Linked DNA regions of Homo sapiens. The protein of the gene in region 2 interacts with the protein of the main gene of each other region in a biochemical or structural test. Each region holds a gene or a part of one and is shown on either strand. Other genes may lie near its edges. The genes, in order: RGS14 and RAP2A.

Region 1 (7,286 bases), on a different chromosome or scaffold from region 2:
TGGAGATTTCCAAACGTCTGAGGTCTAGCCCAAGACCCGAACCACCCAGGGGAGTGTGGTGGTCACTGGGACCTGGGTTTCAATTTTCACAGACTTACAGACTGTGGGCCACGTAGGAGGAAGGGGGCACTCCCCAAATTTAACCAAACTCCCGCCTTCCCCACATCTCTGTTGCTCGCTCCTGCCCTCACCCCGGCGGAAGGACTTGCGGAGAGGGCGGCCCCCAGGACCCTCAACGGGTGGCAGCTGCCCCAACTCCTCCACACCCAGCGGCAGCGACTTCCCGGGCTTCAGCTTCGGCTTCTGTGGGTACAGGGGAGGCGCTGGCACCGGGCTGGGCCCCAGCCCGCATGCAGACCGTGGGCACAGACTCGCAGATCTGCACCCGGAGGCGTCCCCTCTTGCACGCGGTCCGCAGGACCCCCTGCCTCGCCCAGTCCCTCGCCCAGTCCCACGCACCTTCCTCGTGGCGTCAGGGCTGCCGAGGCGCGAGGAGCCAGGTTCCCGCAGAGGGCGTCCCTCGGCTTCGGCTAGCAGGCACTCGCGGTACAGCGGGGACTTGACGAAGCGCGCATAGCTGTCGAACTTCATCAAGTTGAAGATCTGCGGGGCGACCCCGGAACAGGTGAGCCGGGGCTGGGGTGGGGGCGCTGGGCTGCCTGCACCCAGGCCGGGTCCTTGGGGCTGGCCCCGCCCCAAACCTAGGGCTGGATTTCCCAAGCCCCGCCCCGACCTCAGTTCCTATACCCACCCCCGGGGTCCAAGCCCGCCCCGAGCTCAGCTAGGCTCCGCCTCTAACTGTCCTTCCCCGTGCCTCTGATACCGCCCTCTGAGCTCCGCCCTGCCTGCCCCGGCATTTGGCTCTGTCTCCGCCTCCAAATTTGCCCCCTCCGCTTTGTAGTTCAGACTCCCCGCCAGGGTCCGACCCCGCCCCTGCTCCTTTTGTCTCCCTTTCAAGGCCAATCCCCCCAGGATCGCCCACCTGAAGCTGCTGTGCCCGAAACATGTCCGGCCGGGGCTCGGCCAGCACCTCCTCGCCAAGCCAGGCCTGACGGTCGATGTTCACTGGGCTCAGCGCCTGGCTGGACAGGAACTCCTGGTAGATGTTGCGGGCCTCCTGAGCTAGCTGAAGGAGGAGGGACAGGAGGAGTTGGTCAGGGAGCGTGGCCCAGTTCCCCTCTCCCCAGCCCTCGGCCCCAGCTCCCCCTTCCCCCACCTGCTGGGTATCGCTGGCCGGGATCTGCTGGAAGCGCTCGCAGGCCTTCCAGAAAGTCACGTTTTCCGCGCTGAACTCCTTCTTCAGGAACTCCTGGGAGGGGAAGGAGGGGGAGGCAGGCAGAGACTCAGAGACACAGAGACCAAACTGGGGGATGTGATCAAAAAGATTGGGACAGAGACAGGGCCAAGAGACCAAGCCAGACAGACAGGGCCAGACAGACAGACGGAGCCAGACCGATCTGAAGACAGGGAGAGAAAATGAGAGGCAGAGACAAGGACAGGGAGAAGGAAGAAAAGTTCCCAGCTGGGAGAAGAGGAAGAGGGTGCTGCAGGAAGGCTAGATGAGGAAGCTGACAGAGGACCCCACTCTGGCCAGCCTGAAGCTCCATCCACGCCCTGCCCTCTCCCGTGTCCCCCCTTCCCTTTCCCTACCCCAGGCTTACAGTGAAGTAAGCCAGGCCCAGCGGGTCCTGCAACAGCCGCTCGAAGGACAGGGCCCAGCTGGCCACAGGCTGCTCCTCGGTTGGGAAGGGGCTGCTGGGACCACTGGGGAGGCTGTGGATGCTGAGAGAGCTGCCGCGGCCCTCGCCCTGGCCCTGGGGCCCCGTCGTGCTGCTCAGCTCTGCAGGGGGATGGACAAGTTGGGGTGAGCCTTGCTGCCTTCCCCAGCCCCTGGCACAACCCACCCTCCCCCATGCATCCACTCTGCAGCCATGTTCCCTGGAAAGATAGCAGGTGGCAGGGGTGTCCCCACCCATCTCCACCTCCCTCCTCCCTCCCACTCAGCCAGTTCTCCACACATTCTGTCACTTACCTCCATCTGACACAGCCAGAACCTATAAGAGACCCAACAGAGAAAGTCAGAAGAGCCCAGTGAGGATTCCCAGGGGACAGTTCTGGGCCCGACTCCCAGGAGCTGGAACTGCGTTCTCCTCCACCTGGGCATCCCCGGCCAGGTTCTACTTGGTCAGGGTTTTCCTCAGTCTGCCCCTGGCTCCCCTTCCATCCTGTGCCAACCACTAAGTACTGGGACTTATGGCAGGTACCTTCCAGCAGCCCCTGGTTCCCTCCTCCCCCAGCCCCTGCTGGGTGAGCCAGGTGTGCATAGCATGGTGGGTAGGAACAGACTTTAGTCTCTGCCACTTACTAGCTGTGTAACTTTGGGCAAGTTAGTTAACTTGTTTGCCTCCATCTGTAATCTGTAAATAGGAGATAATGCCTATTTACAAATGGAGGCAAACCATTTGCTTCCATCTTGATGTAAAGATCAAGTCAGTTTAATATATTCACAGCATTGGCTGGACACGGTGGCTCACGCCTGTAATCCCAGCACTTTGGGAGGCCGAGATGGGTGGATCACCTGAGGTCAGGAGTTCGAGACCAGCCTGGCCAACATGGTGAAACCCAGTCTCTACTAAAAATACAAAAAAAAAAAAAAATTAGCTGGATGTGGTTGTGGATGCCTGTAATCCCAGCTACTCGGGAGGCTGAGGCAGGAGAATCGCTTGAACCCAGGAGGCAGAGGTTGCAGTGAGCTGAGATTGTGGCATTGCCCTCCAGCCCGGGTGACAAGAGCAAAGCTCCGTCTCAATAAAAGAAAATCAAATAAAAATATATCCACAGCATCTAGAACATGGGCCAGCATGTGATATGGGCTGTATAAACATGTGCTGTCTTTGAGGAAGGAGAGGTGTCTCTGCAGCCAGTGATCTTACTATCGCACGTGTTGCCTATTGGGCCCAGGGTCCCATTACCACCGTGGGAGGGCACAAGATGCTGGTCTATAGTACAGAGCAGTGGTTCTCAAACTTCAGTGCAGAGTGGGAGGACCCCACCTCTGGAGATTCAGGTTCAGTAGGTCCAAGATGGGGCCTGAGGCTGTCCATTTCTACCAAGCTCCCAGGCGATGCTGATGCTGCTGGTTCAGGGACTACTCTGTGAGTAGTACTGCTGCAGTAACTAACTCCATCCTTGCCCCCAGTGCACAACTCTGGTTTCTCTGGGAATCCCAATCATTAGTGAAACAGAAAAACTCTCCTCTCAAAATGACTCTTGCGGTGGTTTCTCTTGTTTCTCTTTTTACCTTCCTAGCAGCTCCTCCAGCTTCCCCACTATCTCCCACTCATGCAATGTGGCCTCAACCCCTCTCTGGCTCTGTCCTGGGCACTTTGTCCCATCCACAGATCCACAGCTCCAGACACACATAACCAACTTCCTGGTAACGGCTCCAGCGCCTATCACCCCTGACTTGGGGTTAGAGGGCAGGACAGAGGCTCAGGGTGTGCGCGAGGAGGGCAGGGCCAGGCAGCCCAGCGGAGGGGGGCGAGTCCCCCCTCAAATGTCCCACAAGCCCTCAAGCTCCCAAATGGAAGTCCCAAATGGAAGCTCCCTCTGCCTCCACCAAAACACAGTACCAAACCAGCTTCCCTGCCCCCATCTTTCTTCCCATCACCCGGGCTTCCAACATCAGGGCTTGAGTCATCCCCAGTTCCTACTTCCCGCTTACCTCCTACACTTTCACCATGCCCTGTCACAGAAGTTCCTACCACCAGCCCCTTATTCCCATCCCAACTGGAAACAGGCCTGCAAACATCTCCACCCCGGAAAGCCCCCCAACCCCCACCCTCCTGAATGGAACCTTCCTCTCTGTTTCCTACTCCCACCCTGAGAGTATTCAGGTCACAGGGCGGCCATCTGTGGGCCAGATCCGGTCTGCAGATATGTGGGAAATTACTATTACCTTGGCCCTCTCAGGTTTTATTATGATGATTATTATTTTTATTTAAAGGTATTTTCCACATTTAAAAAGCAAGAGATTTTAAATTCCACTTGCTCCGTGAGACTGTAATGCTCCAGCTCCTTCCCAGCAGGACAACCTTGTCCGGGATTGAGCAGCCACCACCTTCCCCAAAAGGGCTTACACTCCTCTCAGAGGCCTCTGGGGCCAGTTTAATGCATTTATGTTACTTGTGGAGGCAGTGGGAGGCAGGCTCAAATTTGGGAGGTCAAATTTGTGCTGTGTGACTTTGGACGAGGTACTTAACCTCTCTGTGCCTCAGTTTTTTCCTCTCTAAAAATGGAGCAAATAATGGTCCTGACTTCGAAGGATTGGTGCGATTAAATGAGTGAAATATATATAAAGAACTCAGAACACTATCGGGCGTGTAGTAAATGTTCAAGGAACGTTACTATTAATGTCGTTCTTGTGTCAGTGTTGATGCCTGACCCCGCTACACATTCGAGTTTGCCACTCCCGCCATAGAAGGAAAGAGCACAGGTGTTGGGGGCGGGGGGCGTCTCTCAGATCCAGATTCAAACCCCAGCCCTGACTTTTTCCAGTTTTACAACTTCGGGCTCCTCCCTGAGCTTCGCTTCCCATCTGGAGCCCGGGAATAAGAAGTTGCAGTGGAGGGCAGCGAGTTAGTGCAGAGCGCGCTGGGCGGGGCGTCGGGCCCAGCGCGCCCCGCCCCCGTCTCCGGCCCCGCCCCTCCTGGCCCTGCTCTCGTGCTCCCCGCTCTGTCCTCCCCGCAGAGTCAAATCCCCCAACGAAAGTCGGTGCTTCCCACGGCGACAGGAGAAAGTCCCCACTCCGAGGGCGGCAGAGGGCTGCGAGGAGGGACGGGACGAAGCCTTTCCCTGCGCGGCCGCAAGGTTCCTCTGCAGCCTGCACCTACCTGCCCGCGCCCGGGCTCCTCCTCCCCCGGCTGCACCGCCACGGTGTTCCCAGCCTCGGAGACGCAGTCATCGCCCTCCCCCAGATCCCCGAGAATCACCCGGACTCGCCCCCCTCCGCTGGGCTGCTTGGCCCTGCCCTCCTCGCGCACACCCTGAGCCTCTGTCCTGCCCTCTAACCCCGAGTCAGGGGTGATAGGCGCTGGAGCTGGCGCCAGCCAGCACTTCAATTTTGTTTGGCCCTCACAGGTTTATTTTCCACGTTCTGCTTAACTGAATGTCGTTAAGTGGGGCTGCCTGCTAGATCCTCCCCAGGCCCCACCCCTCCCCACGGTGCCAACCCGGGCCCTTTCCCTGCCCCCGGAGGCACGTTGCGGTTGCCAGGTTACGGCTAAAACCCTACCTGGGCCTGACTAATGAACCCCCTTCAGCCTCACCCATTTTCCTCCCCCTCACCTCCACCCTACACTTCACCGAACTTTTCTATTTTCCCCACACCCCTGCTTCCGGCTTTGCCATTGCCAGTGCCTGGGTATCTGCTCCTGCTCTTCGCTTGGAATTGCTCCCCGATCTCTGCCCGTTGACATTAGTCGTCCCCAAACACCAGGCCCCTTGAATGCCCCTTCCCACCACGTGCTTATCCACCCATGTCCCGGCCTCTCTCCCTGCCAGTCTGGTCACCCCTGGAGTGCTGGCCTGGTTGGTGGGAGGGGTCAGATCTGAACTCCCTCCTCAAGAAGCACCGTCTTTGCCTCGTGCTCCCAAGCAGCCATCAGGACCCTGGCCTTGGCACCCCTTCACTAGGGACTCTCAGCCCCTGAATGCCACCTGTAGCTCTCCATCCTGAGCCTCTCTTGCCCTGACAGTTGTTGATAGCATAGCTGGAGCTGAAATTGAGTAGGGACAGAAATCTGGAGATGGGTGGGAGTGGGGGTGGAATCCAATTCCAGCTCTGCTATTCGGGAACAAGTAACTTCTCTGAGCTTCAGTTTTCCCTGGGTAGCATGGGGCTCAGCACTCCCAATTTCCTGAGGCTGCTGTGAAGCTTGAATGAGGCCCCATGAGTGAAAGCACCAGGCATGCCACAATCAGAGCAGCACCCCACAGCGGAGTGAGGTGCAGGTGTGCAGGGGCCCTGCAGGGGCTCTGGCCTGCCCTGGCTGCCACTGCAGGGCCTGGGGAAGTTGTGTTGAGCAGGGCTGGCCTCCCCTGCTTCAGCCTGCTTGAGAAGAAGTGGTGAGTGAATGGAGAAAAAGGGGAAGAAAGGGCAAGGAAGGGTGTGGTGGCCAGTGACACACGGACCCAGGCTTGGACCTCGGCCGGTCATATTTTTTTCTTAGGAATTTGGTCCTGGGGGAGCTGCTGGCACCTGAAAATGCTAAGGTGAGAGTAAGGCCCCAATTTCCTGAGCTTTGACTGTGTGGCAGGCACCCTCTGGCAGCACACATTCATGTCCTCCCTCCATCTTTACGGGTATCTTGTGTGGCAGGTATTATTACCCCCATTTTACAGATGAGGAAACTGAGGCCCAAAGAAGCCATGCAGCTGAGATGTGGCAGAACTGAGATTAGAACTCAAGTTTGCCTGATTCTGGAGCCTGAGGCCTCCCCACCCTCTACCCAAGCTGACTCCCTTTGTGGACCAAGGAAGCTTGGAGGCCCAGGGCCTCAGCCCTTGGGGCACAGGTGGGCAAGTCTAATCTGGCATGACCTGCTCAGGGGCTCCTCTTGAACTGTGCCCTCTAGAGGGATCAGACCTTGAAGGAGGGCCAATTTTCTGAGCATCTTCTATGCTGGGCACCCTCTACCATCCTCTTGAGGATTTCATCCTAGCTTGAGGGGCTGCAAGACCCTGTCTGGAGATGTCCACACAGAATCTGGGTGTCTGGTCCCTTCAACTTGAACCAGCCTGTGGAGATGACCCCTGGCCTTGCCCCTGTATAAGGCCACCCTGAACTCGAGTGCCCTGAGCTGGACGCGAGGGACAAAGAGAGAGCTGCATGGGCTTTGCCTTGCAGGTCTTCCTGCCAGGAGGGGAAGACTAACTAGGCCCTCTGACAGGACAGGACAGGCTAACTGCCCCTCCAGGCTTAACTCTCAGCCTCCCCTAGGGCCCTGTCCCTGTGTTTGCCCACAGCCAGGCCTATGCCGTGCCCTCCCTCCTCCAGCTTGCAGACCCTTTAGGGACCGTCTCCTACAACACGGTGCATGGAGCTAGTGGAGAGTCTTGCTCTGTCGCCAGGCTGGAGTGCAGTAGCACGAACTCGGCTCACTGCAACCTCTGCCTCCCAGGTTCAAGCAATTCTCCTGCCTTAGCCTCCCAAGTAGCTGGGACTACAGGCACATACCACCACGCCCAGCTAATTTTTTGTATCTTTAGTAGAGAAGGGGTTTCAC
Region 2 (4,746 bases):
TATAAAAGCACATCACACTCAAAATAGTGTAAAACTGTAAATATGAATCATTGATACTGAAGTTTTTAAAATGGGAGGATCTTATACTAAAAAATCCCCATAAGCTAAACCAAGAATCTTTCCTTCAGTTTTATTCCCAACTCATACATACTAAATAGGTCTTCGTATTTACTCTTTCAAGCAGCTAGTCCTCTACCTTTTTCTCTGCTGAGAAATCTTGGAGGAATCCTTAGAGGCTAACATGAAGACTACTAAGAAAATATAGAAAGAAATAACACAGCGTCTTACCTAGAATAGCAGCAAATCTTTTAAAACTCAATACCTCGATGTTGGGGATGTTGAATATTATCTAAAAACTATTTATAGGCCAGGCATGGTGGCTCACGCCTGTGATCCCAGCACTTTGGGAGGCCAAGGTGGGAGGATCACAAGGTCAGGAGATCGAGACCATCCTGGCTAACATGGTGAAACCCCGTCTCTACTAAAAAATACAAAAAATTAGCCAGGCATGGTGATGGGCACCTGTGGTCCCAGCTACTTGGGAGGCTGAGGCAGGAGAGTGGTGTGAACCCGGGAGGGAGCTTGCAGTGAGCAAAGATCACACCACTGCACTCCAGCCTGGGTGACAGAGCGAGACTGTCTCAAAAACAAACAAAAAAACCACAAAAACTATTTATGAAAATATTTATTAAAAATACTAGATAATATTCAACGATGTAAAACCAGTTGGAATGATCCATTTAAGAGATGAAGAGCAACTATGTTTTATTAGTATTTATGTGGCAACATATTTTAAATTAAGAAACGAGGTCAACAGCTTCTTTCAGAAGTTTGTGGTAATATTCTCTGCTTCATAGATCCTAGAGGTCAGTTGGGTTCCAAATTGGGCAGCACCTTACTCCTTTAGCTACATATATTTTCATTCGTGGACCTCTAACAGACAAATAATATAACTTGAGAGAATTTCAGAGTACTACTTTTTAGCCTCAAAGACGTTCTTCCAACTATCCACTATTGATACATTTAAATAATTTATTAAAAAATTTACAAACACTTCAAATAAAATTATGAAGTTCTTCAGAAGATATTCCTAAAATATAGGCATGTTTTCCTTTAAATATCTGGGATTCTATCTACAGTGCCTCTGTTATATTCATTCAAATTATTCTTATAATCTAAAACAATGAAGCTTCTCAACTGGTGGAATGCTGCCAGAGGATTTCAACAGAGTTTGAAGGCAACATAACCAAAAGGCATAGTTTAAATTGGCTTAGGAAATGAATGGGCTCCTTATCAGAGCAGCTGAAGGCTGTATACAATTAACAGCATCTGTCAACTTTCATAGGGCCCCATATAGAACAAGCAGGCCCTACAGCCTGGCGGCAACCTTCAGCTTCTGGCACCTTCGGATCCACATGACCTGAAAACAGAAAGACGGCTTCAAGCCATCACTAGAAGGCCTCTGAATCATTTTAGTGATATTGCTAATTAATGTTAATTATTTGAACAATTCTGTTAACCTTAGCATCAGGCTTTAAATTAACCAGCTACCATTCAAAATATAAAATCATTTGTAGAGATAAGTTTATATTTATAATAACTGATTTTACAGTCTCTTACATGTTATTTTTATTTTTAAAGACTATGAAAATTATCTACCTACCTGCCTTTTTATATGATGAACTCTCAAATCAGCTAAAATATTTTTGTATGAAGAGTACTAAATTCATTATATGGCAATTTTTAATTGTTTTTGTATATAATACATTTCTCTCATGAGCATGTACAAAACAAAGCAAATCCAGAGTTTCATTAAATAAATTTATTTGTTAAAATAATTTAACTCCAAATACAACTGTTGAATTTGCATTGAGTTATAACTACAATTCATGTTTTAATTGAAATGTCAAGGTTTAACAACTGACATTGTTACAAAACAATAAACTTGTTCAATTTTAAATGGTCAGTTGTATTAGAGCGCAACAATTAACTGTGAACTATATCTCTGGGAAACCTCAAATCAATAATGATAAGTCTGTTTCCAAAACCCACTGCAGTCATTCTTGAAACCCTGATCAAGATTTAATAGATGAACAATGACATGTTAAATAAAAAAAAAAAGACCTCCATAGTCCTTAATGTTTGATTGGCTAAGGGACAATTAAAGCTTACCCAGTGCTAACACAAGACTGCTGATAAGAACAAAAAAATTAAAAACACACACATAAACAAAAAACAGCAACAAACAAAACAAAGCACTTTCATATTCATACATACACTGACAACATTAACATTCATACTGGAAAACCCTTGAAAAGAAATACCAGACAGCCTTAGGCAACATTTCTTTATATAGAAAAGCAAATATCAGTAGTATTACCACAGAAAGGTGATGGCAACTGTAGCAATTTGAGTCAAAAGTTCAGTCCTAATTCTACAAACCAAAGGAGAAAATCATCAAAGCACCTTTCAATAGTTTAAGAAAATATTTTATGTAATACTTTTGATCAGATGCTGGCTTGTTTTGTATAAGTTGAACAAAATGAAAGGCATCAGTTACCATCACTATCACAGTTTAAAAGAACCCAAAAGTTGCAACATCAAAAGAAAAAAAAATTCAAAGATGCTGCCTTTGTATAAAAGTAAAAAAAAGAAAATCTTATCACAAGAGCTAAAGAAAAAGTGGGTCTTTGGATCAAACCATAATATTTTTAAGGCATGTTAGAAAAACTTTCACTTATCTAAGTTGCTAGTCTGATCAGGGCATAAAATAAATAGTGACACAAGGTCAACTTTCTTCTGTAGCCACTAAGGTTTCGTATGCCAACAAATGTAATCTTCCTGTTCTTAAGTGTTTTATTACTGTAATATCTCAACAAACACATTCATTTGCCAGCTGAGTTATATATTCATACCAGATGGATATGAATTTCCAGTTTCGGGATGTCCTTGATGCCTTGGTCACTAAATATGCAGGGCTGCGTGGAAACACTCATCAGGCAGCCAGATCAGTTCTTATTCATGTCTTGACAGTAAAAGCCCACCCTGTCATCTGACACAAATGTTTTTAACTATTAATACAACTCAAAATTTTAGGTCATCTTTTCCACTTTACATTCTGCCATATCTTTCATATTATTTAACCTATTTTCACATCTGCATAGCAAGCCATAATGTCAAACTGTGGAATCTTTATAGATATTTCTATTTTGCAATCTTACTTGTCAAAAATTGCTATGAATTATAGAATTCTAAAGAATCATTCTGAGAAGTTAGAGGAATCAAAACTCAACCAATTCACTAACAAATATTTTTATTTCCATAGAGAAATCATATATCTTGAATCTACAACTTCTCTACATGTTTGAATCAAACCAACTTTTACACAGTGAAATTCGTTTCAATAAAATTGGTTAAATTTTTTTGTCCTATAAACAAGGTGGTTCATAATTGAGGATTATAAAAAATTATACTGAAGAATGTAAATATTCAAAAGTCAAAGATTTATGACAGCTATGGCCTGGTTTCATTCACGTATCTCTTCAGTTTTTTCATTATGAAAAATACTATCAATCTTTTTTTTTTTTTTCACCCTCTAAGCTTAATGCCAGTTATTAAACACTTGGGGGGCTACCAATGATTTCATAAAAGTATAAAAGACACTTTAATAATTTAAAAGAAAAAAGTTTTTGATACACTATATTCTGCAGTATAGATTCTTAGTATAGGCAATTATCTCTGACTTGTGCCAAATTCTTAGGAACAATAAACACACATGCACACACAAACACACACTCTTCTCTCAGTTACACACGTAAGACCAGAGGTTACTTGCACAAGACTGTGAAACCAACAAAATGTGGGGTGGTGTATAGATCGCAGGCTCAGTGATATTGCAGTTCTGAAGGCCAAATTCTTCTCCCAAGGCCCAGCTCAAGATAATCTTTTCAGCATTTATGTATAACTAAGTTAGCTGAAGACCCCTCTATACTTGATTGTAAAACTTATGAATAGGTTTTTCCTGTGCCATTAGTCATGCAAATGATAAATACTTCACGACTATGAAAACCAAAAATGTCAGAGCTTGAGCACCTTTTCAAAACAAAATTTTCACTCCAGCTTTATTTGACGCTTCAGTAATCAGGGCAAAATTGTTCTAAGAAAACCTTTATATAATTCTCCAGGAAAATTAAAGGTAAAAGGCTTTTGTCCCTTACCTTCCACTCTATAATTTATGTTCACTTTTAAGCCCAAATTATTTCACATGGTTATTCAATTTTTAAAATGCCTGCAATAAAGCTCTGCTACAGCAAATACTTGATTTTGAAAGCAGGTTAGCCACGGGTCACACTACAACCATAGCCCTTAAAGGCGAGAAGGAATTTGCTGCTTTAATGAACTTAAAAATGCCAGATATTCGTACTGTCCTGTGAGGTTTCTGCAAACGGGAACATGTGGATGCAACATGGCTTCATCTTCCTTACATGATGGTACTAGTTTATCTATTAGAATGCTTCTTGTTAGTAAGGCTAGGTAATCTCTTCCCATCACAGTTGCTTCCCTCTTGTTCAGTAAAGTTATAAAGACCACCCCTAACAGAGGGCGGGTTTGGGGTTTTAATTCTGATCAAACCCTTGTGAAAGCCTCCATTTTCTGTGGCAAAGCAGGTGAATTAACAAATTCTAAAGCCAGACTATATTTTTACATAACCTGTTCTGAGTTTTGCTCTATCAAGGATTGAAGCAT

The links.
Region 1: the proteins of RAP2A (region 2) and RGS14 form a complex in vitro, tested with the Homo sapiens proteins (one study listed by BioGRID).

The regions. Positions count from the first base shown.
Region 1 is NC_000005.10:177,360,731-177,368,016, reverse strand, and holds part of RGS14 (regulator of G-protein signaling 14), read right to left. Parts: intron 4,965-7,286; exon of another isoform or gene 4,893-4,964; intron 2,055-4,892; coding exon 2,033-2,054; intron 1,841-2,032; coding exon 1,662-1,840; intron 1,310-1,661; coding exon 1,217-1,309; intron 1,127-1,216; coding exon 983-1,126; intron 604-982; coding exon 460-603; coding exon of another isoform or gene 304-459; coding exon 192-303; intron 1-191.
Region 2 is NC_000013.11:97,465,053-97,469,798, reverse strand, and holds the end of RAP2A (ras-related protein Rap-2a), read right to left. Parts: 3' UTR 671-4,746; downstream 1-670. UniProt on the Homo sapiens protein: Small GTP-binding protein which cycles between a GDP-bound inactive and a GTP-bound active form. In its active form interacts with and regulates several effectors including MAP4K4, MINK1 and TNIK.